Regions from separate parts of the Homo sapiens genome. Here all the other regions are linked to region 1. The links come from fine-mapping of genetic effects on gene expression. A gene starts in region 1. Each other region holds a variant in brackets. All regions are shown on one strand. Distances are between the middles of the regions. Region 1 holds the start of PODNL1 (podocan like 1). Region 2 overlaps RFX1 (regulatory factor X1). Region 3 overlaps BRME1 (break repair meiotic recombinase recruitment factor 1).

The links.
Region 2: its variant is fine-mapped to the expression of PODNL1 in left ventricle (GTEx, PIP above 0.99).
Region 3: its variant is fine-mapped to the expression of PODNL1 in testis (GTEx, PIP above 0.99).

What each region holds. Positions count from the first base shown.
Region 1 is chr19:13,933,998-13,945,225 of GRCh38, forward strand. PODNL1 (podocan like 1) reads right to left here and starts at 4,420. Exons shown (of 10, transcript NM_001370095.3): 1 at 4,182-4,420; 2 at 3,788-4,009; 3 at 2,370-2,463; 4 at 1,983-2,047; 5 at 1,724-1,833; 6 at 257-413. The coding sequence starts at 4,184. RefSeq lists an enhancer at 2,183-2,940.
Region 2 is chr19:13,974,094-13,979,093 of GRCh38, forward strand. RFX1 (regulatory factor X1) reads right to left here. Exons shown (of 21, transcript NM_002918.5): 8 at 3,899-3,993. Among named protein-coding and RNA genes, the nearest start is that of DCAF15, 24 kb to the left of the region's middle. The variant T/G (reference allele first, on the strand shown) is at 2,552.
Region 3 is chr19:13,889,231-13,900,458 of GRCh38, forward strand. BRME1 (break repair meiotic recombinase recruitment factor 1) reads right to left here. Exons shown (of 9, transcript NM_001345843.2): 3 at 6,142-6,316; 4 at 3,912-3,993; 5 at 3,556-3,660; 6 at 1-1,232. Among named protein-coding and RNA genes, the nearest start is that of BRME1, 11 kb to the right of the region's middle. RefSeq lists an enhancer at 348-849. The variant A/G (reference allele first, on the strand shown) is at 5,575.

The sequences.
Region 1 (11,228 bases):
AGAAGGAAGAAGAGAATGAGACTTGAGTCTGGGATGAGGGCAGCGGGAAGCCACAGACGGCTCTTGAGTAAGGGAGTGACGAGGAGCTTGCCTTGAGCTCAAAGCGATTTCCAATAAAGTGATTCAAAGAAGGATAACTCTGACCACTGGCATTCTGAGGGGCAATTGAGAAGAATGGAAAGCTAGGAACTGGAGGGGTCCCCCTGGAAAGAGGTGAAGAGAGTCTGGCCCGGGGTGGGACCTACAGCAGGGCTACCTGCAGGTGGAGCCGCTCGAGTGAGGGCGGCAGGCTGGGCGGCAGGTAGCTGAGCTGGTTGTTGGAGAGGCTGAGGGTGGCGATGGCCTCGGAGCCGCGGAAGGCGTCGGGGGGCAGGCCAGCGTTGCTCAGCTGGTTGTTGTGGAGGTACACGGACCTGAGGAGAGCCAGGCTCCGGCCACCAGCCTGCCCCTCGCCTCCTACCACCCCACTCCCGCACCACACCCTGCTCAGGGTCGCCTTCAGTGTGTGTGTGTGTGTGTGTGTGTGTGTGCGCGCGCATGTGTGGAGTCTGTGTGGGAATGTAATTGTGTATGTGTGCATGTGACTGTGCGTAGGTGTGCAGGTGAGTGTGCATGTGTGTTGTATGAATAGACGTGTGTGCATGTGTGAGCAGTGTGCATGTGTAAGTGTAATGAGTGCATATGTGGAGTGTGTGTGCACGTGTGTATGTGATTGTAAGAGTGTGTGGGCGTGCATGTGTGTATGTATATGCAAGTGTGTGCTATGTGCCTGTGCATAAGTGTGCATGGGTGAGTGTGTGCATGTGATTGTAAGTGTGGGTGTGCATGTGTGCATGCCTGTGCATAAGTGTGCATGTGATTGTGTGTGTGCAGCCGAGTGTGCAACTGTGTGTATGCATGTATGTCCATGTGTGCATGTGATCATGTGCAAAAGTGTGAGCATTGTGTACATATGTGCATGTGTGTGCTTGTGTGTGCATGTGATTGCGTGTGCATGCATGAGTGTGTGCCTGTGTGCATGTGGTTGGAAGTGTGTGCAGGTGTGTATGTGAGTCTGTGTGTGTGCTTGTGTGTGCATGTGATTGTGTGTGCATGAGCATGTGTTCATGTGGTTGTGTGTGCAGGTGTGTATGTGAGTCTGTGTAAGTGTGTGTGTGTGTGTGTCCCTGCACATACTGTCTCCACCTCAGTCTGGAGTTCTGACACAGCATACAGGGCCCTGTCTCCCCGCTCACTCTCCTCCCAGGGTAGAACTATGCCCTCTTCCCACTCCCCAAGGCTAGGGATCTGTCCCTGGTTAAGCCCTCCAGGGCAAGGCATTTTGTTTCTGTTTTTGTTTTTAATTTTGAGACAGAGTCTCACTCTGTCGCCCAGGCTTGAGTGCGGTGGCACGATTTCGTCTCACTGCAAACTCCACCTCCTGGGTTCAAGCCAGTCTCCTGCCTCAGCCTCCTGAGTGGCGGGGATTACAGGCGCACACCACCACCCCCAGCTAATTTTTGTATTTTAAGTAGAGACAGGGTTTCATCATGTTGGCCAGGCTGGTCTCGAACTCCTGACCCCAGATGATCCTCCCACCTTGGCCTCCCAAAGTGCTAGGATTACAGGAGTGAGCCACTGCACCCGGCCGAGGGCAAGGTCTTAACTCCCTCATTGCTCCTAGAACCGGGGCATGACACAGATGTATCTGAGGCCTGGGGGCCTGGGCTGGGCCAGGGTCTACCTGAGTGCCGGCTTCTCCCCAAAGGTGAGGGGGAAGATCTCCATCACTTGGTTGGCAGCCAGATCCGCGACACGGAGGGACCGGGGCAGAAACTGAGGGGCCACTGAGAGCTGTGGGGACACAGCCCACAGCCGGACTGGTCCTGGTGCGCCTTGGCCCCACCACTTCCCCAGCAGAGCTGTCCCCTCCACACCCTGGGCTGAGTGACTGAAGCTGCACCCTCACTGGGCTCGGCCTGCGGGTGGGGCTGGGGGCTCACCTTGTTGTGAGCCACGCAGAGGTGCTGCAGCTGGGTGAGGGACTCGAAGGCCTCGTCAGGCAGGCCTGGGAGAGTAGGGGGGCAGTGAAGGGACCCCAGGCCTGTCTTGGGTGGAGGGGGAGTCTGGGCTCCCAGCTGCCCCAGGACTCTCGGCCGGGGAACTGGCAGAGGCTCCCCAGGCCCTCAGATCCCCTCCTCCCCATCCCTACTCAAAAGCCACAGCCCCCAACCCCCACCCCAGCTCCTGAGTTTCCATCCTGCTCAGCAAAGGGCAGTTCTGGGAACTGCCACAGAGCTGCCCGCAGATGGGGCGGGGGAGGGGGATGGCAGCTGAGACCTCGGTCAGTCCTACAGCCCCAGAGAGGCCGCCTCCCTCTGCCCCCTCACCTTCGGAGGAGATGAGGTTGTTGTGGAGGTTGAGGGTTCGCAGGCCACTGAGGCGGGACAGCTCATTGTAGGGGAGTTCCTGGAGCTGGTTGTTCTGCAGGGTGAGAGTTGGGGTGTTCACACCCGTGACCCCGTGACCAAGTGACCCCAAGCACTGATTCTCAACTTCCCATCAGCCCAAACCAGCCCCATACCATCATCACCCCCACAGTTAATCCCAAACACCCCATCACTCTGACCCAGTCTTATAACTGCCAAGATGTCAAACCCCAAACCCCCACAATCGACCCCAAATGTGCCATCACCCCCACAATCGACCCCAATTCCCCCAACACCCCCACAATCAACCCAAATGTGCCATCACCCCCACAACCGACCCCAAATGCACCATCACCCCCACAATCGACCCCAAATTCCTCAACACCCCCACAATCAACCCCAAATGTGCCATCACCCCCACAATCACCCCCAAATGCACCATCACCCCCACAATCGACCCCAAATGCCCCAACACCCCCACAATCGACCCCAAATGCGCCATCACCCCCGCAATCAACCCCACATGCCACAACACCCCCACAATCGACCCCAAATGCGCCATCACCCCCGCAATCAACCCCACATGCCACAACACCCCCACAATCGACCCCAAATGCGCCATCACCCCCGCAATCAACCCCACATGCCACAACACCCCCACAATCGACCCCAAATGCGCCATCACCCCCGCAATCAACCCCACATGCCACAACACCCCCGCAATCGACCCCAAATGTGCCATCACCCCCGCAATCAACCCCACATGCCCCAACACCCCCGCAATCGACCCCAAATGTGCCATCACCCCCGCAATCAACCCCACATGCCCCAACACCCCCGCAATCGACCCCAAATGTGCCATCACCCCCGCAATCAACCCCACATGCCCCAACACCCCCGCAATCGACCCCAAATGCGCCATCACCCCCGCAATCGACCCCAAATGCGCCATCACCCCCACAATCGACCACAATGCGACATCACCCCCACAATTGACCCCAAATGCGCCATCACCCCCACAATCGACCCCAAATGTGCCATCACCCCCACCATCAACCCCACACGCCACAACATCCCCATAACCCCAAACTCCCCATCACACTAACTCCAAACAACACTATAACCGCCAAGATGTTGACCCTAACACCACTAATCCTCAGTCCCCGACAACTTCCAGCATGTCCACGCTCACCCCTCTCATCTTGGGCATGCAGAGCCAATCTGCCAAGGCAAAGCTCCATCACAGCCTGCTCTGCACCGCCCTCCTGCAAGTGTGTTCCTATACCCCACCACGCTCCTCAGCTCTGGGGCACCCCTCCAGCTCCCCTCACCACTGGGTCTCAGCCCTGCATGCCCCCACTCCCCTCCGTGGGCCCCACCTGCAGGGAGAGGTGCTGAGCGGCTCTGGTGATGTTGTCCGGGAACACTCGAAGGTCCAAGCCATCACAGTCCACAGTGTCGACTCGGGGGCAGGAGCAGCGCAGGGGACAGGCCCGGGGCAGGGGCTGCAAGCTCTCCCCCAGGTGGGGGAAGGCAGCGTCTTCCAAGCCGGCGACGGGCGGGGGCCCCGGCAACAGCAGGAGCAGCAGCAGGCTCGGCCACTGCGGGGGAGGGAGGGTCAGCGTGTCTCCAGGCTGGGCGCAGGGTCGCCATGGTGACTGGAGCATCCCCTCCTCGGGGAGGGTCTTGGTGGGGAGGCAGTGGCCAGTTGGCAGAGCAGGGGTGGGGGGGCAGGCAGGCCCCACCCTCAGACCCTCCCGTGCCCCACCTTACCATGGCCAGCCCTGACTCTGCCATCTCGCCCAAGCTGCTGACCAGGACTTCCTAATGGAAACCAGGCGGTCACCTCCTGGAGCCTCTGCTGTGGCCACCACCGCCCCCCATCTCCAGACCCATGCCACCCCCCACAACAGCCTGTTCTCCCGGGGCTTTGGGGGAGCTGGCCCACCCCCTTCCCCGCCCTGGGGAGGACGGGCAGGCGGCCGGATGGGGTGGTGAGGACAGGCCAGCCCGTCCCCTTGGTCCCCCCCAACAACCACCCCATCTCTGCTTTCGTAACCTCAGCCAGCCTGGGCCGGGCCACAAGAACAAGGAATGTTTGGGGAAAAGCTGAGATTCGTCCTGTCTGGTATTTGGGACGACCGCAGGAGTAGGGGTGGGGATGGAGGGATGGGGGGAGCTTCGGGGCACAGGAGAGTTCCGAGAAGCAGGGGCGGGCAGCAGCGAGGGATTAGGGAGGCCTGAGCTTAGCCTGGCAGCCCAGATGCCAGCCTGGGAGCTCCTGACCAGGTCTGCTGCCCGGCACCCACCTCCCCTCTGCTGGCTGGTCTTGCTCCAGACACCCGCCCCCTCCTCCCCCCGCAAATGGCCACAGCCGCCTGGAAGGAAATTACATATATCCAGGCATCAGCCTGGTGGTTAAGAGTGTGAGCTTGGTGCCAGCCTGCCTGGGTTTGAACCTGGGCTGTGCCACCTCTCAGGGCCTTGGTTTCCCTTTCTGGGGTAATGGTTGGCTCACCACCCCACACTCCCCCACAGTGTTGTAAGGATTATACGAAGTGTGCATTCAGAACAGTGCCTGGCATATCCCAGGGCTTTGGCACCCGTGGATGGGGGTGACAAGCTGGTCTCCACATGAGGTCAATTCTCCCAGACCCACAACTTACCAACAGGGCGGCTTCAGACAGGTCCTTCTCCTGCCCAGACCTCAGCTTTCCCACACATAAAATGGGATTGACAGGCTGGGTGCTGGGGTTTATACCTGTAATCCCAGTGCTTTGGGAAGCTGAGACAGGAGGATCTCTCTTTTGTTTTTTGAGACAGAGTCTCACTCTGTCACTCTGTCGCCTAGGCTGGAGGGCAGTGGCGTGATCTCGGCTCACTGCAACCTCCACCTCCGGGGTTCAAGTGATTCTCCCGCCTCAGCCTCCCAAGTAGCTGGGATTACAGGCGCCTCCCACCATGCCCAGCTAATTTTTGTATTTTTAGTACAGACAGGGTTTCGCCAAGTTGGCCAGGCTGGTCTCGAACTCCTGACCTCAGGTGATTTGCCCACCTTGGCCTCCCAAAGTGCTCGGATTACAGGCATGAGCCACCACATCTGGCTAGAAGGATCTCTTGAGGCCAGGAATTTGAGACCAGACTGGGCAATATAGTGAGACCCTGTCTCTAAAAATAAATTTAAAAAAAAATTAGCCTGGGCTGGGCTCCATGGCTCACACCTGTAATCCCAGCACTTTGGGAGGCTTAGGCAGGCGGATCACCTGAGGTCAGGAGTTCCAGAGCATCGAGCCCAACATGGTGAAATCCTGTCTACTAAAAATACAAAAATTAGCTGGGCATGATGGCACGTGCCTGTAATCCCAGCTACTCCAGAGGCTGAGGCACGAGAATCGCTTGAACCTGGGAAGTGGAGATCACATCACTGCACTCCAGCCTGGGCAACAGAGCAAAACTCTGTTTCAATAATAATAATAATAATAATAACTAACCTGGTATGGTGGTGCACACCCACAGTCCCAGGTACTCAGGAGGCCAAGGCAGGAGGAACACTTGAGCCTCTGGGCTCAAGTTTGAGGTTACAATGAGCTATGTGCCACTGCACGCCACTCTGGGCAACAGAATAAAACCCTGTTATTAAATAAAGAAAAAAAAAGTGGGGGGATGACAAACCCCCCCCCTCAAAGAGCTGTCTTGAAGCAGAACGAGGCAGTGGGTAGAACATTTTAAGAATGGTGGCTGGGTGTGGTGGCTCATGCCTGTAATCCCAACACTTTTGGAGGCTGAGGCAGGAGGATGGCTCTAAGCCCAGGAGTTTGAGACCAGCCTGGTCAATAATGGTGAGACCCCCGTCTCTAAAAAAATTTTTTAAAAACTTTGTGGGGGGCCAGGCGCGGTGGCTCACACCTGTAATCCCAGCACTTTGGGAGGCCGAGGCAGGTGGATCACAAGGTCAAGAGATCGAGACCATCCTGGCTAACACTGTGAAACCCCATCTCTACTAAAAATACAAAAAATTAGCTGGGTGTGGTGGTGCGCGCCTGTAGTCCCAGCTACTCAGGAGCCTGAGGCAGGAGAATCACTAGAACCAGGGAGGCGGAGGTTGCAGTGAGCCGAGATCACGCCACTGTACTCCAGCCTGGGTGACAGAGCAAGACTCCGTCTCAAAAAAAAAAAAAAAAAAAAACTTAGCGGGGGCCAGGCGCGGTAGCTCACACCTGTAATCCCAGCACTTTGGGAGGCCGAGGTGGGCAGATCAGCTGAGGTCAGGAGTTCGAGACCAGCCTGGCCAACATGGCGAAACCCTGTCTCTACTAAAAAATACAAAAATTAGCTGGGTGTGGTGGCATGTGCCTGTAATCCCAGCTACTTGGGAGGCTGAGGCAGGAAAATGGCTTGAACTTGGGAGGCAGAGGTTGCAGTGAGCAGAGATTGTGCTACTGCACTCCAGTCTGGGCTATGGTGCGAGACTCTGTCTCAAACAAAACAAAACTTAGCGGGGCATGGTGGTGTTGCCTGTAGTCCCAGCTACCAGGGAGGCTGAAGTGGGAGGATCACATGAACCCAGGAGGTTGAAGCTGCAGTGAGCCGTGTTCATGCTACTGTACACCAGCCTGGATGACAGAGTGAGACCCTGTCTCAAAAATGAATGAATAAATAAAAATAAAAGTATAGTGTCGGCCAAGGACGGTGGCTCACACCTGTAATCCCAGCACTTTGGGAGGCCAAGGCAGGTGGATCACCTGAGGTCAGGAGTTTGAAACCAACCTGGCCAACATGGTGAAACCCAGTCTCTACTAAAAATACAAAAATTTCCTGGGCACGGTGGTGCATGCCTGTAATCCCAGCTACTCAGGAGGCTAATGCAGGAGAATTGCTTGAACCTGAGAGCTGGAGGCTGCAGTGAGCCGAGATCACACCACTGCACTCCAGGCTGGGTAACAGTGAGACTCCGTCTCAAAAAAAAAAAAAAAAAAAAAGTATAGCGTCTGCTCAGCTTGGGAGTGGCCAAGGCCAGGAGTTGGAGTCTCCCAGAAGCAGAGCTTGAGACAAGGATTGAGTGCATTTATTCCAGAGAAGGCAGGCAGTGATACAGGGGAGGGAGGAAGTGATCAAGAAACAGTGGCTGGGCGCAGTGGCCCACGCCTGTAATTCCAGCACTTTGGGAGGCTGAGGTGGGCAGATCACCTAAGGTCAGGAGTTCGAGACCATCCTGGCCAACAAGGTGAAACCCCGTCTCTACTAAAAATACAAAAAAATTAGCCAGGCATGGTGGCAGGCACCTATAATCCCAGCTACTTGGGAGGCTGAGGCAGGAGAATTTCTTGAACCTGGGAGGTGGAGGTTGCAGTGAGCCGAGATTGCATCACTGCACTCCAGCCTGGGCGACAGTGCAAGACTCCATCTCAAAGAAAAAAAAGTTAAGAAACATGGGCCAAGAGAGGTGGTTATCTGTTCATGTTTCCTAGGGCTGTGTGACCTCCTGAGGGTCTCTCTTCATGGGGTGAGACAGGAGACGGGTCTTAGTTTAGGCCAGAAGAGAACAACAGCTCCTATCTCAAGTACTCCCCATGGGATGGATGGCCATTAGCTTGGACATTGGGTGGAAGTTCCTCAGTCTCTTCAGCAGTGTAATGGGGCTAACCCTAGGGAGACAGGACTACTGTAGCAGTCCTAGCCCCCAGGGAAGCAGCAATAAGAACCAAGATGTTTGAGTTCCGGGCAAGCCTCTTTCCATTGCAAAGGAAGGAGAACCCAAACTGAACTAGCTAATACAAACAAGGGCATTTACTGGCTCATGAACAGAAAACCTGTATCCTTCAGGCACAGCTGGATCCAGGGGCTCCAGTGATCTCTTCTAGATGAATTCTCTCTTGAACTCTGAACTCTACTTGCAGGCTTCTGTATGTGGTGCTAAGACATTCCCAGAACCAATAAGCATTCTTCCCTGGCTTTAGTAGAAAGCCTCAGACTTAAATCTCATTGGCCTAAATTTGGTCACATGTCCATCCAGAGCCAATCCCTGGGGCCAGAGGGATGGAATGTGCTGATTGGCTAGGAACCTAACCATTGTTCCTGTAAATAACCCACTGGCCTTATCTTCCTGCAACAAACTCCCCTTCTGCCACACTGTCCTGTCCAGTCCTGCCTGGTCCTGCCCAGTTCTGCATTACCCAGCAGGGGCCTCTGCAGGGATAACAATGGAGTATGGTCCATCAATGTGGCCCCAGTGTCCAGCATGGAGCCTGGTATAATCAGTATTTAGTAAATATTTACAGAATGCACATAGGATTGGCTGTGCGCCCCTGTGGCTCACACCTGTAATCCCAGCACTTTGGGAGGCAGAGACGGGCAGATCATGTGAGGTTGGGAGTTTGAGACCAGCCTGGCCAACATGGTGAAACCCCATGTCTACTAAAAAATACAAAAAAAAACAACAAAAAAAATTAGCTGTGTATGGTGGTGCACACCTGTAATCCCAGCTACTCAGGAGGCTGAGGCAGGAGAATCGCTTGAGCTCAGGAGGCACAGGTTGCAGTGAGCCGCGATCACACCACTGCACTCCAGCCTGGGTGACAGAGCAAGACTCTCTCTAAAAAAAGACAGAAAGGGCCAGGCACGGTGTCTCATGCTGTAATCCCAGCACTTTGGGAGGCTGAGGCAGGCGGATCACCTGAGGTCGGGAGTTTGAGACCAGCCTGACAAACATGGATAAACCCCGTCTCTACTAAAAATACAAAATTAGCCAGGCATGGTGGCACATGCCTGTAATCCCAGCTACTCAGGAGGCTGAGGCAGAAGAATCACTTGAACCTGGGAGGCAGAAGTTGTGGTGAGCTGAGATCGCGCCATTGCACTCCAGCCTGGGCAACGAGAGTGAAACTCCAAAAAAAAAAAGAAGAAAAAAGAAAGAAAGAAAAGGAATGCATTCACAGTTCTGGAGGCTGGAAGTGGTTCCAGGCAACTTGGTGTTTCCTGGCTTGTGGCTGCATCACCCTAATCTCTGCCTCAGTTTCCACGTGGCCTTCTTCACTGAGCCTGTTTCTCCTCTCCTGTCTTTATTTATTTATTTTTGAGATGGAGTCTCGCTCTGTTGCTCAGGCTGGAGTGCAGTGGTGTGATCTTGATTCACTGCAAGCTCTGCCTCCTGGGTTCAGGCCATTCTCCTGCCTCAGCCTCCCAATTAGCTGGGACTAAAGGTGCATGCCACCACGCCCGGCTAATTTTTTTGTGTTTTTAGTAGAGACGGTGTTTCATCATGTTAGCCAGGATGGTTTCGATCTCCTGACCTCATGATCCACCTGCCTCAGCCTCCCAAAGTGCTGGGATTACAGGCGTGAGCCACCGCGCCCAGCCTCTCCTCTCCTGTCTTTTATAAAGACACTGGTCTTTGGATTCAGGGTCCACTCAGTTAATCTGGGATAATCTCATCTCAAGATCCTTAACTGAATTACATCGCAAAGACCTGTTTTCCAAATCAGGTCACATTCACGGCATCGGGGAGACAGGACATCTACCTATCTATTTGAGGGACACCATTCAAACCACGACATGGATTTACCTGGGTAGAGATAATCTTGTGGGAAAAAAAATTGCAGAATGATGCTAACAATGTAGATCATTTCCATATATTAAAACATACATATTGGCTAGCTCTGGGGGGAGACCTGAATGCTTGTGGCTGGGGGCAAAGAGAGGCTTGCCACTGGATATCCTTGTACATCTGTTTTTGTTTTGTTTTATTTATTAAATTAATTAATTAATTAATTTTTTTGACAGAGTCTCGCTCTGTCACCCAGGCTGGAGTGCAGTGGCGCAATCTCGGCGGCTCACTGCAAGCTCCGCCTCCCGGGTTCACACCTTCTCCTGCCTCAGCCTCCCGGGTAGCTGGGACTACAGGCACCCGCCACCATGCCTGGCTAAATTTTTTTGTATTTTTAGTAGAGACAGGGTTTCACCGTGTTAGCCAGGATGGTCTTGATCTCCTGACCTCATGATCTGCCTGCCTTGGCCTCCCAAAGTGCTGGGATTACAGGCGTGAGCCACCACACCTGGCCCTATTTGTTTATTTTGAGACAAAGTCTCTCTGTTGCCCAGGCTGGAGTGCAGTGGCGGGATCTTTGCTTACTGCAGCCTCCGATCCCTGGGTTCAAGCGATTCTCGTGTCTCAGCCTCCCGAGTAGCTGGGACTACAGGTGCAGGCCATGATGCCTGGCTAATTTTTGTATTTTTAATAGAGACAGGTTTTGCCAAGTTGGCCAGGCTGGTTTCAAACTCCTGACCTCAATGATCCGCCCGCCTTGGCCTTCCAAAGTACTGGATTACAGATGTGAGCCACTACTCCTGGCCTGTTTGGGGTTTTTTTTTTGTTTGTTTTGGGGTTTTTTTGAGAGGGAGTCTCACTCTGTCACCCAGGCTGGAGTCCAGTGGCACGATCTCGGCTCACTGCGACCTCTGCCTCCTGGGTTCAAGCAATTCTTCTGTCTCAGTCTTCCCAGTAGCTAAGACTACAGGTGTACACCACCATGCTTGGCTAATTTTTGTATTTTTATTACAGACAGGATTTTACCATATTGGTCAGGCTGGTCTTGAACTCCTGATCTCAGGTGATCCACCCACCTTGGCCTCCCAAAGGGCTGAGGTTACAGGCATGAGCCACCACACTCGGCCTGTTTTATTTTGTTTTTTAAGAGACAGGAGCTCGCTATGTTTCCCAGTCTGAACTCCAACTCCCAGGCTCAAGCAATACTCCTGAATAGTTGGGGCCATGGGCATGCACCACTGTGCCCTGTACATCTGTTGAATTAAATAGCAAAAAAG
Region 2 (5,000 bases), 37 kb after region 1:
AAAAGCCCCGGCCCCCGGAACCGTCTAGTTGGGGAGACAGGCAAGAAGCCACGTGCAAAGGTAAATGAGAGATCATAACAGAAGGTGATCAGGCAGTGAGTGAAGCAGGAAGGGGGTGGGGCTAGAGAAGGCGATGCTGTGATTGGAAGGGACTAGAGAAGGCGACGCTGTGATTGGAGAAGACCATCAGGAATGCAGATATGTTTCCCCTGAGCCAAGCTACCTATCCCAGGCTGGGGAAGCCTCTCTCCTTCAGATATCGCGTGACGGGATGGGCACCGGTGACACAGGCTTGAGGCTGCAAATCGTCACAAGTATACAAGTATAAAAACCACCAGGGGTTCAACCTCAAGGGGCTGTTAAACAAAAGATGATGGAATCCTATGCAGGGGTGAAAGAGAAGGAGGCAAGGCTTGTCGTCCCCCGAAAGAACAAGCTCCAGAACCTAACACCGGGCAGATAAGAGGCAGAGAAGAGTGGGGACCGTGTGACCGAACAATAGGGAAGAATGCGTTGCATGTGGCATGCGTGTCTGTCATCTGTGGGCATGGAGGGCTCCGTCGAGGGGGACAGGCAGGGGGCACCTCTCACCATCTCGCTAAACATCGTTGGACATAGTTTTGATCTTTGAACTCTTTCAATGTACTAGTGATTAAAAACATAGCATTAGGCCAGGTGCAGTGTAATCACACCTGTAATCCCAGCACTTTGGGAGGACGAGGCGGGTGGATCACTTGAGGTCAGGAGTTCGAGACCAGCCTGGCCAACATAGTGAAACCGTCTCTACTAAAAATACAAAAATTAGCCAGGCATGGTGGCAGGCGCCTGTAGTCCCAGCTACTCAGGAGGCTGGGGCAGGAGGATCACTTGAACCTGGGAGGTGGAGGCTGTAGTGAGCTGAGATCATGCCACTGCACTCCAGCCTGGGTGACAGAGTGAAACTCCACCTCAAAAAAAAAAAAAAAAAGGGAGGGGGGCAGGGGCAGGCACGGTGGCTCACACCTGTAACCCCAGCACTCTGGGAGGCCAAGGCGGGTGGATCACCTGAGGTCAGGAGTTCAAGACCAGCCTGGCCAACATGATGAAACCCTCTCTCTACTGAAAATACAAAAAGTTAGCCGGGTGTGGTGGTGGGCGCCTGTAATCCCAACTACTCGGGAGACTGAGGCAGGAGAATCGCAGGAGAACCACCCTGAAGGTGGAGGTTGCAGTGAGCCAAGATTGCACCATTGCACTCCAGCTGTGCAACAAGAGGGAAACTCTATCTCAAAAAAAAAAAAAAAAATTAAACATCCAGAAAGACAGTGTGGTCAGTCAAGAGGTGGCCTGGCTCAGACTCTGAAGGTGGCAGGGGAGGGAGCCGCACAGGCCCGAGTGGTTGTGGGTGAACAAAGAGAGGGAGTTGAGGGGGACAGTGGAAGGAGATATGGAAGCATGGTCTTTGTCACACATCAGGTCCAGCTCTCGATCTCTCTGTCCTGCCCTATGTCTACCACACAAAGTGACACCAAGAGCACATGACCTGAGCAAGAGCCCCTACTTCTCCAAGGCGGGGGCCACAGCCTGCTCACTCCTGCACACCCAGCATGCAATGTGTGCTGCAAAAAGGTTGCTTTGGTAGATGGTTGCTGAATGACTGAATAAATGAATGTGTGCAGCTCTGGATGCCCCCCAGAACAGGACCAGGGATGGAGGCCCAGGGGCTGTGGCTTTGGCCAGGGTGGGGATAGGGCTGGCAAAGGGTCGGGAACTCGCAGTAATTCACTCAGAGGGAGAGACAGAAGGGGTGGGCAGCTGACAGCAGGAGTGGCCCCCAACAACTTCTCGTAGCAGAAAAACCCGATAGCAACGATGAACTAGGTGCAATCACACACACTATGATCACTGAGAGAGGAATTCAGACAGAAGCAAAGGAGAGACAGGAGAGACGCTACCAGGGATGGCAGCAGGAACCCTTGGACACCGTGTTCCTCTTTGCAATGCCCTGTCTGGCCCCTGCCAGCTTGGCTCAACCACACAGTGAAAAGATTAGCAGCACTGGAAAGAAACAAATGGAACTGTGAGGTAGCCGGACGCCGGGGACCAAGCCTCACGATTTAGATGCCTGGACCAGGCCCACTGGGGTCGGTCAGAGCATCATGACCCTAGGACTAAGTCGATCCATGAGCTAACCAATCCCAGCATTGTCCCCAGAAGAACAAGTGGCAGGGATGAAAAAAGAAATCATGCAAATGCAAAGAAAACCAAGTGAAACCTCTGGAAACTAAACCAACAGTAACTCTAGTACTGCAGCAATTTCTGTGGAGATGGGAGAGGGAAGGTGGCATGGAGGACCCCCGGCGAGGAGCCCGAGCCGGGACTGAAGCGGGGCCAGGACGTGGCCCCTGCCTGACACGGCCCATACACAGGAATGGTAGTGCTGTACCCAGGGAGGGGAAGAAGCCCCCTATGCATCACTGGGTGGGGACTGATGACATCGTGGCTGCTGCATCTGCACAGGGGTTATTACACAGCAGCTAAGAGGGTGACCAGGACCCACGAGGACACATGG[T/G]AGAAGAGCCAGGAAAGAAATAAGGTATGGATGGAATGTCCTGCGTCTATTTCTGACCACAGAAAGCGGGTAGAGGCTGGGCACTGTGGCTCATGCCTGTAATCCCAGCACTTTCGGAGGCCAAGACGGGAGGATCATTTAAGTCCAAGAGTTCGAGGAGATGAGCCTGGGCAACGTGGCAAAACCCCATCTCTACAAAAATACAAAAATTAGCTGAGCATGGTGGTGCACACCTGTAGTCCCAGCTACTAGGGAGGCTGAGGTAAGAGGATTGCTTGAGCCCGTGAGCTGCAGTGAGCCCTGATCGCGCCACTGCTCTCTGGCCTGGGCGACAGAGTGAGACCCTGTCTCAAAAAAAACAGAAAAAAAAAGTCCAGTGCGGTGGCTCATGCCTGTAATCCCAGCACTTTGGGAGGCTGAGACGGGTGGATCACGAGGTCAGGAATTGAAGACCAGCCTGACCAACATGGTGATACCCCATCTCTACTAACAACACAAAAATTAGCTGGGTGTGGTGGTGTGTGCCTGTAATCCCAGCTACCCGGGAGGCTGAGACACGAGAATCACTTGAACACAGGAGGCAGAGGTTGCAGTGAGCCGAGATCACACCACTGCACTCCAGCCTGGCGATAGAGCAAGACTCCATCTCAAAAAAAAAAACAAAAAAAAAGAAAAAAATGGATAGAGGGCTAGAGTTTCTGTTCTTAGAGTATCTCTGGAAAGAAACAAAGAAACAGGTCACAGCATCCTCTCTGGGACAGGGTTGAGAGTCAAATGATTTTTTTTTTTTGAGATGGAGTGTCACTCTATTGCCCAGGCTAGAGTACAGTGGCACGATCTCAGCTCACTGCAACCTCCGCCTCCTGGGTTCAATCAATTCTTCTGCCTCAGCCTCCCGAGTAGCTGGAATTACAGGTGCCTGCCACCACTCCTGGCTAACTTTTGTATTTTTAGTAGAGACAGGGTTTCACCATGTTGGCCAGGCTAGTCTTGAACTCCTGACCTCAAGTGATCTGCCCGCTTAGGCCTCCCAAAGTGCTGGGATTACAGGCGTGAGCCACCGTGCCTGGCCTTTTTTTTTTTTTTTTGGTTAAAAACCAGGCTCATTTGACTCCCAAGCCCTAAGCTATGCCGGGGTGCCTTTCCCAACCTTCAAGGGTCCCTCTGCTTCGCCACTTTTCGTGGCTGTGGCTGCCCCTGGGGAGTGCCCACCTGTGTGTCTGTCACCTGAGGCCTTGAAGGCCGGATGGCCTGCTGGGGGCTGGGACTGGGGACTGGTGTCCTGGGAGACTGGGGAGGCTCCAGTGCAGACCTGACTCCCTCACCCACCCCTCTCCCTTCACTTACATGGCACTGGCCGTGTAGCTGGCATCGCCGCCCTCCACATACTGCACCTGGCTGGAGTACACGTGTGGGACGGGCACCTGCTGGAGCTGCTGCACCTGGGGCAGAGGAAGGGCACGTGGAGGGTCAGGGGTGGGCCAGCTCCTACGGTTCTCCCTCTAAAGGGCTGGTGCCCACCCAGGCTATCCCTGACGCCCAGCTCCCGGACCCAAGGGTGGCTTCTGGACTCTCAACAAAACACCCTGGAGGAGGCCAGGGCTGGGAATCAGGAAGAGCTGTGTCAGGAGAAGCCAGGACTCTCGGCTTCGGCTGGGGCCAGCAAGGGTGGGGCCTGACGGACAGTGGAGGGGACCCGAGACAGGGTCCTGTAGTGGGCGTGAAGGTTGGACCCCAGGCACAGGGGCAAGGCTATCGCTGGAGCCATGGAGCTACAGAAAGGGCCTCAGGGGTGGGGCCTGGAAACCGGGCACAGGATGTGAGGGGCGGAGCCTGGGGCCCCGGTTGGTGGGACAGAACCTGGAATCACTGACAGGGCCTTAGGGGCGGGGCCTGAGTCCCCCACCTCCATCCCCCACCCTTGTCTGCAGGGGCGGAGCTGGGACCTGGACGGGGCTTGGGTGGGGAGTCAGAGGCGGGTCCCTAGACCGACCCGTCGGGCGGAGGTGGGGTCTACAGGGCTTGCGGGGCCTGGTGGGCGGCCCAGACTGGGCGCCCCCGCCCCCGCCCGCCCGCTGCCCCCCGCCCGTGCGTCCGCCACCTACTTTGAGGGCCGTGGCGGCCGTGCCGAACACTAGCACCTGGGGGATTCTCTGGATCCTGACCCTCTGGTCGGGGCTGGCTCGGGCCGGGAGCCGGGACAGTGGCTCGAAGACCACTTTCTGCTGCGGCAGGAGCAGGTGTGGGGGCAGCACGCCCACCAGCTCCACCCACTGCTCGGCGCCCGGCTCGTAATGGGGCGGCGGCGGCTCGGGGCTGCCTAGCTGCGGGGCCTCGCCGCTGCACGCGGGCGGCCGGGGCGGCGGCTCCGGCGGCGGCGTGGGCCGGGGATCTCGCTGCTCTGCCTTCCTAGCGGGAAACTGACTGCCTGAGCTCTGGAGGACAAACA
Region 3 (11,228 bases), 45 kb before region 1:
TGTATCTGGCTGTCCAGCAGGAAGTCGAGTTCCACAGCTAAAGAGTCTGCCCAGGTGCCCTGGTCTGCAGAATGAGGCAGGTGGTCTCGCTGCCCTGCCAGCTCTGAGGTGGTGTCTGGAATGCCCTGCTGAGCCCCGGGCTCCTGGAGAGGGTCGTCTGCTATTTCTCTGTGTTCCAGCACAACAGAGGCTTGCGGGGACACACGGAACCCCTCGAGGTCTCGTTCGAGGTTCTGGCCACCTAACTCGGCTTCCTCTTGAGCAGGACCTGGCTCCTGCTTCTGATTGACACATGGACCTGTGTCCGGGGATGCATGACCGGAATCTCCAGCACCCATCATGGACTCTCCGCTCCCAGGTGCCAGAGCCAGGGAGGCTGTAGGGCCCACTAGGACATCGCCGGGGGGCTTGCCATCCTGCCCTGCCTCCCCACTTTCTCCTGTGGTTTCCCCAGTGAGCGAGGTGCAGCCTGGCAAGGCCCTCCTGTGGCCTCCATCAGCGGCCTTCCTCCTGGGAGAGGCAGGTGATATGGCACTGGCCTGCCCATCGGGCCCAGCCACCTCCAGAGCCCTCTCTTCCAGCTCAGTGGGGTCTGTGCTCAGGTCTGCGATGACAACCATCCCGAGGGAGGAGCATCCCAGGCTGCTATGAGTCCCTTCCCCTTCCCTACCCATCCTGCTGGGGGTCTGCTGGGGGTCAGGGGAGCCCTGGGCCACAGACCCGGGTTCCAGGCACCAAGAGGCAGGGCCCAGTCCTGGAGCAGGGCCTGAGGTAGGAGCTGATGCTGGGGTACAGGGGACACCGTCTCCCTCCTCCTGGGGCCCTCCAGGCAGGCCAGCCCCTGCTGTCCTTTGGGCCCCTCCCTCCTGGGGGGCTCCTCTGTCTGGCTTCTCCCCTTCAGAATCAATGCTTGGTAGGTGTTCCTTTTGGCCACCGTCACCTGGAACCCTGTCTGTCTCAGGCTTGCTGTCATCGGCCCCTTGTTCTGACAGGTGGTCTTGGCTGGCCCTCTGTGAGGCGGACAACCCCGTCCCCCTGTCTGGAGGGTCATCAGGCTGAGAATCCCCACTGCCGGGCACCGCCTGCACAGGGCTCTGGCTGCTCTGCTCAGGGCGGGCACTGTCTGCCTGCGTTGGGTCCCCCAGCTCCGTGGCCTCCTGGAGGGGGACCCCCAGGGTCTCCACTAGCAGCTGGCATCCTGGACTCTGGGCGCTGGACTCTGCGATTGTTTCCTGTGGACAGAAAAAGACTCAGCCCCGGGGCCTTTGATAACCAAGTTCTCCGAAGAGTTTTCTATTAGGTTGGTGTAAAAGTAATTGCGGGTTTTGTCATTACTTTTAATGGCAAAAATTGGCCAGGCGTGATGGCTCATGCCTGTAATCCCAGCACTTTGGGAGGCCGAGGTGGGCGGATCACTTGAGGTCAGGAGTTCAAGATCAGCCTGGCCAAAATGGTGAAACCCCATCTCTACTCAACAAATACAAAAATTAGCCAGGCATGGTGGCAGTTGACTGTAGTCCCAACTACTCAGGAGGCTGAGGCAGGAGAATTGTTTGAACCCGGGAGGCGGAGGTTGCAGTGAGCCGAGATAGGACTGCACTCCAGCCTGGACGACAGAGTAAGACTCTGTCTCATACACACAAAAAAATTAGTGGCAAAAACTGCACTTACTTTTGCACCAATCTAATAGTTGTCACCACCCTGTTCAAAGACTCAGATATTGGCACCGGCCATCATGCATGGAAATAGGCATCAGTACCAGGGCCGGCGACTGGAGGGGGATCTGGAAGCACAGAAACCTCTCCTTCCACCAAGCTCTTCTCTCCACCAGCACCAGGTACTCAATCAGATCAGGGATATGAAAATCAAGGTGGCATTCAGACCACACCAATGTCAATTTCCTGTTTATTATTATTATTATTATTATTATTATTATTAGACAGAGTTTCACTCTTGTTGCCCAGGCTGGAGTGCAATGGTGCGATCTTGGCTCACTGCAACCCCCACCTCCCGGGTTCACGCAATTCTCCTGCCTCAGCCTCCCGAGTAGCTGGGATTACAGGCTCGCGCCACCATGCCCGGCTAATTTTGTATACTTAGTAGAGACAGAGTTTCTCCATGTTGACCAGGCTGGTCTCAAACTACAGACCTCAGGTGATCTGCCCATCTCGGCCTCCCAAAGTGCTGGGATTAAAGGCATGAGCCACTGCGCCCAGCGGCTATTATTATTTTTATTATTTATTTTTCATAATTTTGAGACAGGGTCTCACTCTTTCGTCCAGGCTGGAGTGCAGTGGTGTGATCACGGCTCACTGTAGTTTTGACCTTCCTAGATTCAGACGACCCTCCCACCTCAGCCTCCTAAGTAGCTGGGACTACAGGTACACACCACAACTGGCTAAATTTTGTGGTTTTTTTGGTAGAGATGGCGTTGTGCCATGTTGCCCAGGCTGGTCTTGAATGCCTGGGCTCAAGTGATCCTCCTGCCTCGGCCTCCCAAAGTGCTGGGATTACAGGTGGGAGCCACTGCACCTGGCCAAGTTTTAAAACAATTATTGTAGCCTGGACGCAGTGGCTCATGCCTGTAATCCCAGCACTTTGAGAGGCCGAGGCAGGCGGATCATTTGAAGTTGGGAGTTCGAGACCAGCCTGGCCAACAGGGTGAAACCCCTATTCTAATAAAAATACAAAAATAAGCCAGGTGTGGTGGTGTGCACCTGTAGTCCCAGCTACTGGGGAGGCTGAGGCAGGAAAATCACTTGAACCCAGGAGGTGGAGGCTGCAGTGAGCCGAGATCACACCACTGCACTCCAACCTGGGCGATAAGCAAGACTCCATCTCAAAAAAAAAAAAAAATTATTGTAGAGACAGAGTCTTGCCATGTTGCCCAGGCTGGTCAAGGGAAGTCTCCCAAAGTGTTGGGATCATAGGCATGAGCCACTGCACCTGGCCAATTGCCTAGTTTTGGTGATGGACTATAGTTATGCATGGTGTTACCACTCGGTGAAGCTAAAACAGAGAACACCGGAAATTCACTCTGTACCATTTTGTGTTTTTTTAAAAATTGTGCTAAGGCCGTGCGCAGTGGCTCATGCCTGTAATCCCAGCACTTTGGGTGGCTGAGGCGGGCAGATCACCTGAGGTCAGGAGTTCAAGACCAGGCTGGCCAACATGGTAAAACCCCGTCTCTACTAAAAATACAAAAATTAGCTGGGCGCGGTGGGCAGGCGTCTGTTATCCCAGCTACTTGGGAGGCTGAGGCGGGAGAATTGCTTGAACCCAGTGGGGCAGAGGTTGCAGTGTGCCAAGATGGCACCATCGCACTCCAGCCTGGGTGACAAGAGTGAAACTCTGTCTCAAAAAAAAGAAAAAAAATAAAATAAAGAATTGTTGCATAGTCAACACACATCCATAGCGCAATGTACTGAAAACGGTGGGTGGAGAGGTGCAGGCCTCACCATTGCCAAAGAACTCCAGGGTTAAATGGGGCTGCCGAGGCTGGGCCAGGAGGCTGCACCTGCGCTGGGCTCAGCCTGGCTGATTTTAGAGCCTTACCAGGCTAAAGGCCCCACTCCCACGGTCCTCATCCTTCATCTCTTCTTTTCTTGTCACTGTCTTCCTGGATTTTGCAAACTGGGGAACAAACCTCCCGAATGAGTTCTGTAAACCGGATACAAGAACAAAGCAGCAATAAAGATAAGAGAGGAATGAGGTCTTAGGAAAAAAGCAACCCCAAACCTGCTCCTTTCTTGTAGCCTTGAGAGAACTCCACCCTTGCCCTCTGGGCACATTCCCTCCAGCCCCTGTAGACCATGAGTGAGCAATTGGTGACAAAGAAGGGAGACACAGAGCCGGAACTTTAAGGGAGGCAGTGGTGCTTCTATATCCACGAGGCCACAGGACGAGCTCACCTGGGAAGGAGGAAGGGGAGCTGGCTCCTTTTCTGGTTGACGGAGGAGCCGGCAGGGAGATCCTGTTTCCTCATCAGGGGAGCTATGTAGGAAAAGATAAAACTGAAGGAGATCTGCCCGGGTGCGGTGGCTCACACCTGTAATTGCAGCACTTTGGGCGGCTGAGGCGGGCAGATCACCGAGGCCAGGAGTTCGAGACCAACCTGGGGAACATGGTGAAACCGTATCTCTACTAAAAATACAAAAATTAGCTGGATGTGGTGGCGCACGCCTGTAATCCCAGCTACTTGGGAGGCTGAGGCAGAATGGCTTGAACTCAGGAGATGGTGTTTGCAGTGAGCCAAGATTGTGCTACTGCATTCCAGCCTAGGTGAGAGAACAAGGTTCTGTGTCAAAAACAAACAAACGAGGGGGATCTGAAATCCTCCTAGGTTGTCACTCACCTATCGAGACAAACGCAAAACAAAATCCAACAGGAAACCAGTGCTAAGAGTCTCCTAGGCTGGGCGTGGTGGCTCATCCCTTTAATCCCAGCACTGTGGGAAGCTGAGGTGGGTGGATGCCCAGGAGTTTGAGACCAGCCTGAGCAACATAGTGAGACCCCTTTTCTACAAAAAATTTAAAAATTAGCTGGACGTGGTGATGTGTGCCTGTGGCCCCAGCTACTTGAGAGGCTGAAATGTCACGATCATCTGAGCCAGGGGAGTTCAGGCTGCAATGAGCTATGATCACGCCACTGCACTCCAGCCTGGGTGACAGAGCAAGACCCTATCTCAAAAAAAAAAAAATGTCTGCTAGATGGAAGGCCCTGGAAAACCTGCTTTGAAAGAGTGGGATGGGGATGGAGAAGCAGTGACCTGAGAACATTTAACTGTCAAGGAGGGTGCAGAGTCCCACCTGGAGAATACACTGCCTTAACAGGTGACTTTGTTACATTTATAATCCCAGGAATTGCCTTCTGAACTGGGAATAGGGATATTCTCATTTGGACGGACACTCCAGCCCTGACACGGCACATTCTAGGGAAAGGAAATTGTGGATGCAAGAAACATAGTGTCTTTAAAAACTAGTGAAACTTAGGGTTATATTTAAATAAATAAGGGCCAGGCGTGGTGGCTCACGCCTGTAATCCCAGCACTTTGGGAGGCCGAGGCGGGCGGATCACCTTAAGTCAGGAGTTCGAGACCAGCCTGGCCAACATGGTGAAACCCCGTCTCTACTAAAAATACAAAAATTAGTTGGGTGTGGTGGCGGGCGCCTTTCATCCCAGCTACTCAGGAGGCTGAGGCAGGAGAATCGCTTGAACCCGGGAGGTGGAGGTTGCAGTGAGCCGAGATTGTGCCACTGCACTCCAGCCTGGGTGACAGAGAAAGACCCTGTCTCAAATAAATAAATAAATAAATAAGGATATGTATATCGTTTTGTTTTGGCTAATTATTTTATTTCTTGTAGATATGGGGTCATCCTTGTTATGTTACACAGGCTCCTCTTGAACTCCTGGGCTCAAGCGATCCTCTTGCCTCAGCCTCCCAGTGTGCTGGGATTATAGGCATGAGCCACTGCACTCAGCCCTGATTGCTTTTCTTTTTTTATTGGTCGTTAGCTCACATAACAACAATTCCTTTGTTCCCTTCTTGATTAAGGAAGAGGAGGAATGTGGAAG[A/G]AGGATGGGTTTGACCAGCAGACAGAATATGAGTTCTGTAACCCTGAAAAATGCAATGTTATCTTTGCCCACAGTTAAAACTTTTTTTTCTTTTTTTAGATGGAGTCTCGCTGTTGCCCAGGCTGGAGCGTAGTGGCATGATCTCAGCTTACTGCAACCTCTGCCTCCTGGGTTCAGTCGATTCTCCTGCCTTAGCCTCCTGAGTATCTGGGATTACAGGTGCGCCACCACACCCAGCTAATTTTTGTATTTTTAGTAGAGACGGGGTTTTGCAGTGTTGGCCAGTCTTGTCTCAAACTCGTGACCTCAAGTGATCTTCCCCCCTCGGCCTCCCAAAGTGTTGGGATTACAGGCATTAGCCACCATGCCCGGCTAAAACATCAACCCTTCTTACCAGCGAGGAAAGCTAGGAGAAGCGAGATCCGAGGGCCCTGAGCTCTGGGAGGGAGTGGGTCACAGCACTAGATAGGTTGTGGGTCTCTTTCCCAAAGCATTGCTGTCTGCTGAGCTGCTGTGCTATGTGGACTGTCAGTGGGGAGACCTGCCGGAATGTTCAGAGCCACCTACCTGGAGACGGCCTTTCCTGGTTCCTCCCCGTGCTGCTGTGTAGAGGGAACAGGTCCCAATTTGCCCTCTGGCTCCTCAGGGTGATGTAAACAGCCCAACATGGAACTCTGGGGGTCCCCATAGAAGTCTCCTAGCCTTGGGTTCTTTAGGGGTTTTGGAGGACAGAGTCCCTCTCCTGTTTTAGAGACAGAGGAAGATGAAGGGGTGGGGGATACAGCCACTGCTCATGGCTGACAACTCAGGTCTCCCCCACTACAACCAGGCTGCACGCGAGAAGGGGCCGAATCCATTTCACTCTCTGCGGGGTCCCAAGTGCCTGTAAGAGCATCTTGTACACTGTTGGTGCTCAATAAATAAATTATCCATGACTGGATAAATGCACACCACCAAGGGCAGACAAGACTAAATTATGTACCATTCTAATGTGCTGAGACATCTGCAAAATAGCCATCCTGGGAAAACTGGGACTCACAGCCACCGGGTGCTGAAGAGGTGATGCTTTGGCCACGTCCTGGCCCCTTGCATTTCTGCACTAACTTCCCCATCACTGAAAGCAATTGCGATGTGTCTTCTTCTGGCATTTAAGAGGCTAAAGATGCTTATTGACATCTTTGTATATATAGCGCAGTGGCTCACGCCTATAATCCCAGCACTTTGGGAGGCCGAGGCGGGTGGATCACCTAAGGTCAGGAGTTCAAGACCAGCCTGGCCAACATGGCAAAACCCCGTCTCTACTGAAAATACAAAAATTAGCCGGGCATGGTGGCACCCACCTATAGTCCCAGCTACTTGGGAGGCTGAGGCAGGAGAATCGCTTGAACCTGGTAGGCGGAAGTTGCAGTGAGCTGAGATTGCGCTACTGCACTCCAGCCTGGTTGACAGAGCGAGACTCTGTCTCAAAAAAAAATTAATATATATTATATATCATATATAAAATACATACATATTCATATTTAATATATACATACATATAAAATATATAATTATAATGTATTTACATATTGCATATTTATAATTATAAAATATATTATTTAAATTATATATTTATGATATATTAATATATTATAAACATTATATCCTTGTATTATATTATATATTTATATATGATATATATTTATTAAATATATACTATATATATTATATATCCCATTATATTGCCAGGTTGTTCCATGTGATCTAAAGCCAGGCCACGCCACCTCAGGATTCAGCCTCAGCCAAATATGTAAATATATATATTTATACATATGTATTTATACATACATATGTATTTATACATACGTATTTACATATATGTATTTATGTATTATATATACTATATATATATTTTTTCTTTTTTTAAGACAGGGTCTGGCTTTGTCTCCCAGGCTAGAGTGAGGTGGTGCAACTGTGGATCACTGCAGTCTTGACCTCATAGGCTCAAGCCATCCTCCCACCTCAGGCCACTCAAGTAGCTGGGACAAAAGGTGTGTGCCACCATGCCTGGCTAAGTTTTCTTTTGCTTTTGTTTTGTTGAGACAGGGTCTCATATGTTGCCCAGGCTGGTCGTGAACTCTGGCGCTCAAGTGATCCTCTTGTCTCGGCCTCCCAAAGTGCTGGAATTACAGGCATGAACCACTTTGCCTCGCCAGAATCTATCTTTTGAATTAAGAAAACTCCCTTACATCGAAACTTTTTTTTTTTTTTTTTGAGACAGAGTCTCGCTCTGTCACCAGGCTGGAGTGCAATGGCACGATCTCTGCTCACCGCAACCTCTGCCTCCCGGGTTCAAGTGATTCTCCTGCCTCAGCCTCCTGAGTAGCTGAGACCACAGGCACGCACCACCACACCCAGCTAATTTTTGTATTTTTAGTAGAGACAGGGTTTCACCATGTTGGCCAGGATGGTCTCGATCTCTTGACCTCATGATCCGCCCGCCTCGGCCTCCCAAAGTGCTGGGATTACAGACATGAGCCACCGTGCCCAGCCACATCAAAACTTTCAATAGTGGCTGGCTTGTAAGACTTCCCCAAGCCTGGCCCCAACCTAATCATGCATTCAGTGAACAAATGATAAGGGTTGACTCTAGTGAGTTCCACACCAGATGCTGTCCTAAGAACTTGTGTGTGTTAAGATAAAAGCTCAAGGCAGGGTGCTGCTGTTATGCCTGCCTTACAGAAGTACCTTGAGCAATTCAATATTATCTTTGTCCATGATTAAAATATTGGCCTTTGCCACCAGCAAGGAAAGATGCCAGCCTGTAATCCCAGGACTTTGGGAGGCCGAGGCAGGTGGATTGCTTAAGCTCAGCAGTTCAAGACCAGCCTGGGCAACATGGCGAAACCCTGTCTAAAAAGTACGAAAATTAGCCAAACATGGTGGTGCATGCCTGCAGTCCCACATACTTGGGAGGCTGAAGGGGGAGGATGACTTGAGCCCAGAGGAAGAGATTGCAATGAGTCCAGACTGTGCCACTGCACTCCAGCCTGGGCAACAGAACTAGAGCCTGTCTCAAAAAAACATTTAAATTAAACATTTAAATTAAAATAAATAAATAAAAGGGCAATATGGCAAAACCCCATCTCTACTAAAAATGCAAAAGTTAGCTGGGCATGGTGGTGGGCACCTGTAATCCCAGCTACTTGGGAGGCTGAGGCAGGAGAATCGCTTGAATCCGGGGGGCTGAGGTTGCAATGAGCCAAGATGGCGCCACTGCACTCCAGCCTGGGCAAGGGAGTGAGATTCCATCTCAAAAAAATAAATAATTAAATTAAATTAAAAGGAAAGGAAAGATGCGAGAATTGACACCCAAGGGCCCCAAGTTCCCAGAGAGGTGAAAACGTTAAGGCACACAGAGGCCCAGGAACCAAGGCTGGCACCCCGTCCAACTCCAGAACCAGCACACTTAAGAATACTTGAGCATTTACTGAATGCCTACTATGTAGTAGATTTCTGCCAAGGCAGGCAGAACAAAAAGACAAACCAACAGCCAGGTGTGGTGGTGCACACCTGCAGTCCCAGCTACTCAGGAGGCTGAGGGGGTAGGATCACTTGAGTCCAGGATCTCACTTGGGTAACACAGTGAGATCCCACCTCTATAAAACATTTAAAAATTAGCTGAGGGTGGTGGCATGCACCTGTAGTCTCAGCTACTCAGGAGGCTGAGGCAGGAGGATTGCTTGAGCCCTGGAGGTTGAAGCTGCAGCAAGCCGTGATTGTGCCACTGCACTCTGGCCTCAGCAACAGAGCTAGATCCTATCTCTAAAAAAAACACTAAAGAATAACACTATCCAGGACCAGGCGCAGTGGTTCATGCCTGTAATCCCAGCACTTTGGGAGGCTGAGGCGGGCGGATCCCCTGAGGTCGGGAGTTTAAGACCAGCCTGACCAACATGGAGAAACCCTGTCTCTACTAAAAATACAAAATTAGCCGGGCATGGTGGCTCATGCCTGTAATCTCAGCTACTCAGGAGGCTGAGGCAGGAGAATCGCTTGAACCCGGGAGGCGGAGGTTGCAGTGAGCCGATATCGCGTCATTGCACTCCAGCCTGGGCAACAAGAGTGAAACTCCATCTCAAAAAAAAAAAAAAAAAAAAAAGAATAACACTATCCAAACCCCAGATGGACTCTTTCCAACCTCAGCTCTACATTACACACTTACACATCGTGAAGTAAACCTACTGAATGAGTCTCTCTTTCCTCGACGCCAATTGCTAGGGTCTGCATCAGTCCCCATTCAGCTGTTTGCCCTCCACTAAACCACAGCAATCTTCCTGTAATTGCTTCTAATTCTTCTTCTTCTTCTTTTTTTTTTTTTTTGAGATGGACTCTCGCTCTGTTGCCCAGGCTAGAGTACAGTGGCATGATCTCAGCTCACTGTAACCTCTGCCTCCTGGGTTCAAGCAATTCTCCTGCCTCAGCCTCCTGATTGGCTGCGACTACAGGTGCAAGCCACCATGCCTGGTTAATTTTTTTGTATTTTCAGTAGAGACGGGTTTTCACCACGTTGGCCACACTGGTTTTGAACTCCTGATCTCAAGTGATCTGTCTGCCTTGGCCTCCCAAAGTGCTGGGAATGCAGGTGTGAGCCATGGCGCACGGTAAGTTGCTTGTAATTCTGTCAGTTACAGTTCGGGAGTGCCCGTTTAGAACTTTATCCCACTGCTGTGTATTTGCTTAGCTCTCGCTGAGAGAAGCATTTTCCTTTGTCCTCTGACTACAGCTGGAGGATCTCCAGGGCAGGAACTGAGTGCAATGCACCCTTTGATCTCCCCTTCGCCCTGCCCTGCCCCATCAGGTGCCCACCTCAAAGGATGTACCACCACAAGTAAAGCTCCGATGGACATTGCTTATAGAAACACATTCCTAACCGTCCGGGTGCAGTGGCTCATGCCTGTAATCTCACCACGTTGAGAGGGTGAGGTGGGCAGATTGCTTGAGGTCAGGAGTTCAAGACCAGCCTGGCCAACATGGTGAAACCCTGTCTCTACTACAAATACAAAAAATTAGCCAGGTGTGGTGGTGGGCACCTGTAGTCCCAGCTAATCAGGAGGCTGAGGCAGGAGAATCACTTGAACCCAGGCGGCGGAGGTTGCAGTAAGCCAAGACTGCACCACTGCACTCCAGCCTGGGTGACAGAGCAAGACTCTGTCTCAAAAGAAACACGACCTTGTGGTCTGCCAGAAAAGACAAAATATAGCTGCTTTGTTTATTTGGTTTCTTGAGATTCTCAAACACTTGCTCACTTGGCTGACTGAATGGCCATTTGTACCAAATAAAAAGCAAAAAAATATCAATGGCATTGAAGAGTCTTCTCTTTCCTTCCTGTGATCTGTCCACATGGGACTAATTTAAGAAAAAATAAGGCAGAACCTTGTGTTCGACACCAAAGACTAAAGACATTGGGAGGGAAAAGGCCTCTTTCACCACCTGCCAGAATTTTCTTCCTCTCTCTCCACCCTTCCAGCACACACAGAAAGGGTTGTCCAGGGCCAGCCCAGAGGTCCACTGAGCTGGGGAGTCTACCGCCAACAGAGGCCCCAAGTGACCTGCTGTGGGTGGACCTGGCTGTCCCCAGCTTCCCCCTCCAAGGTCAGAGAAATTCTGATGCC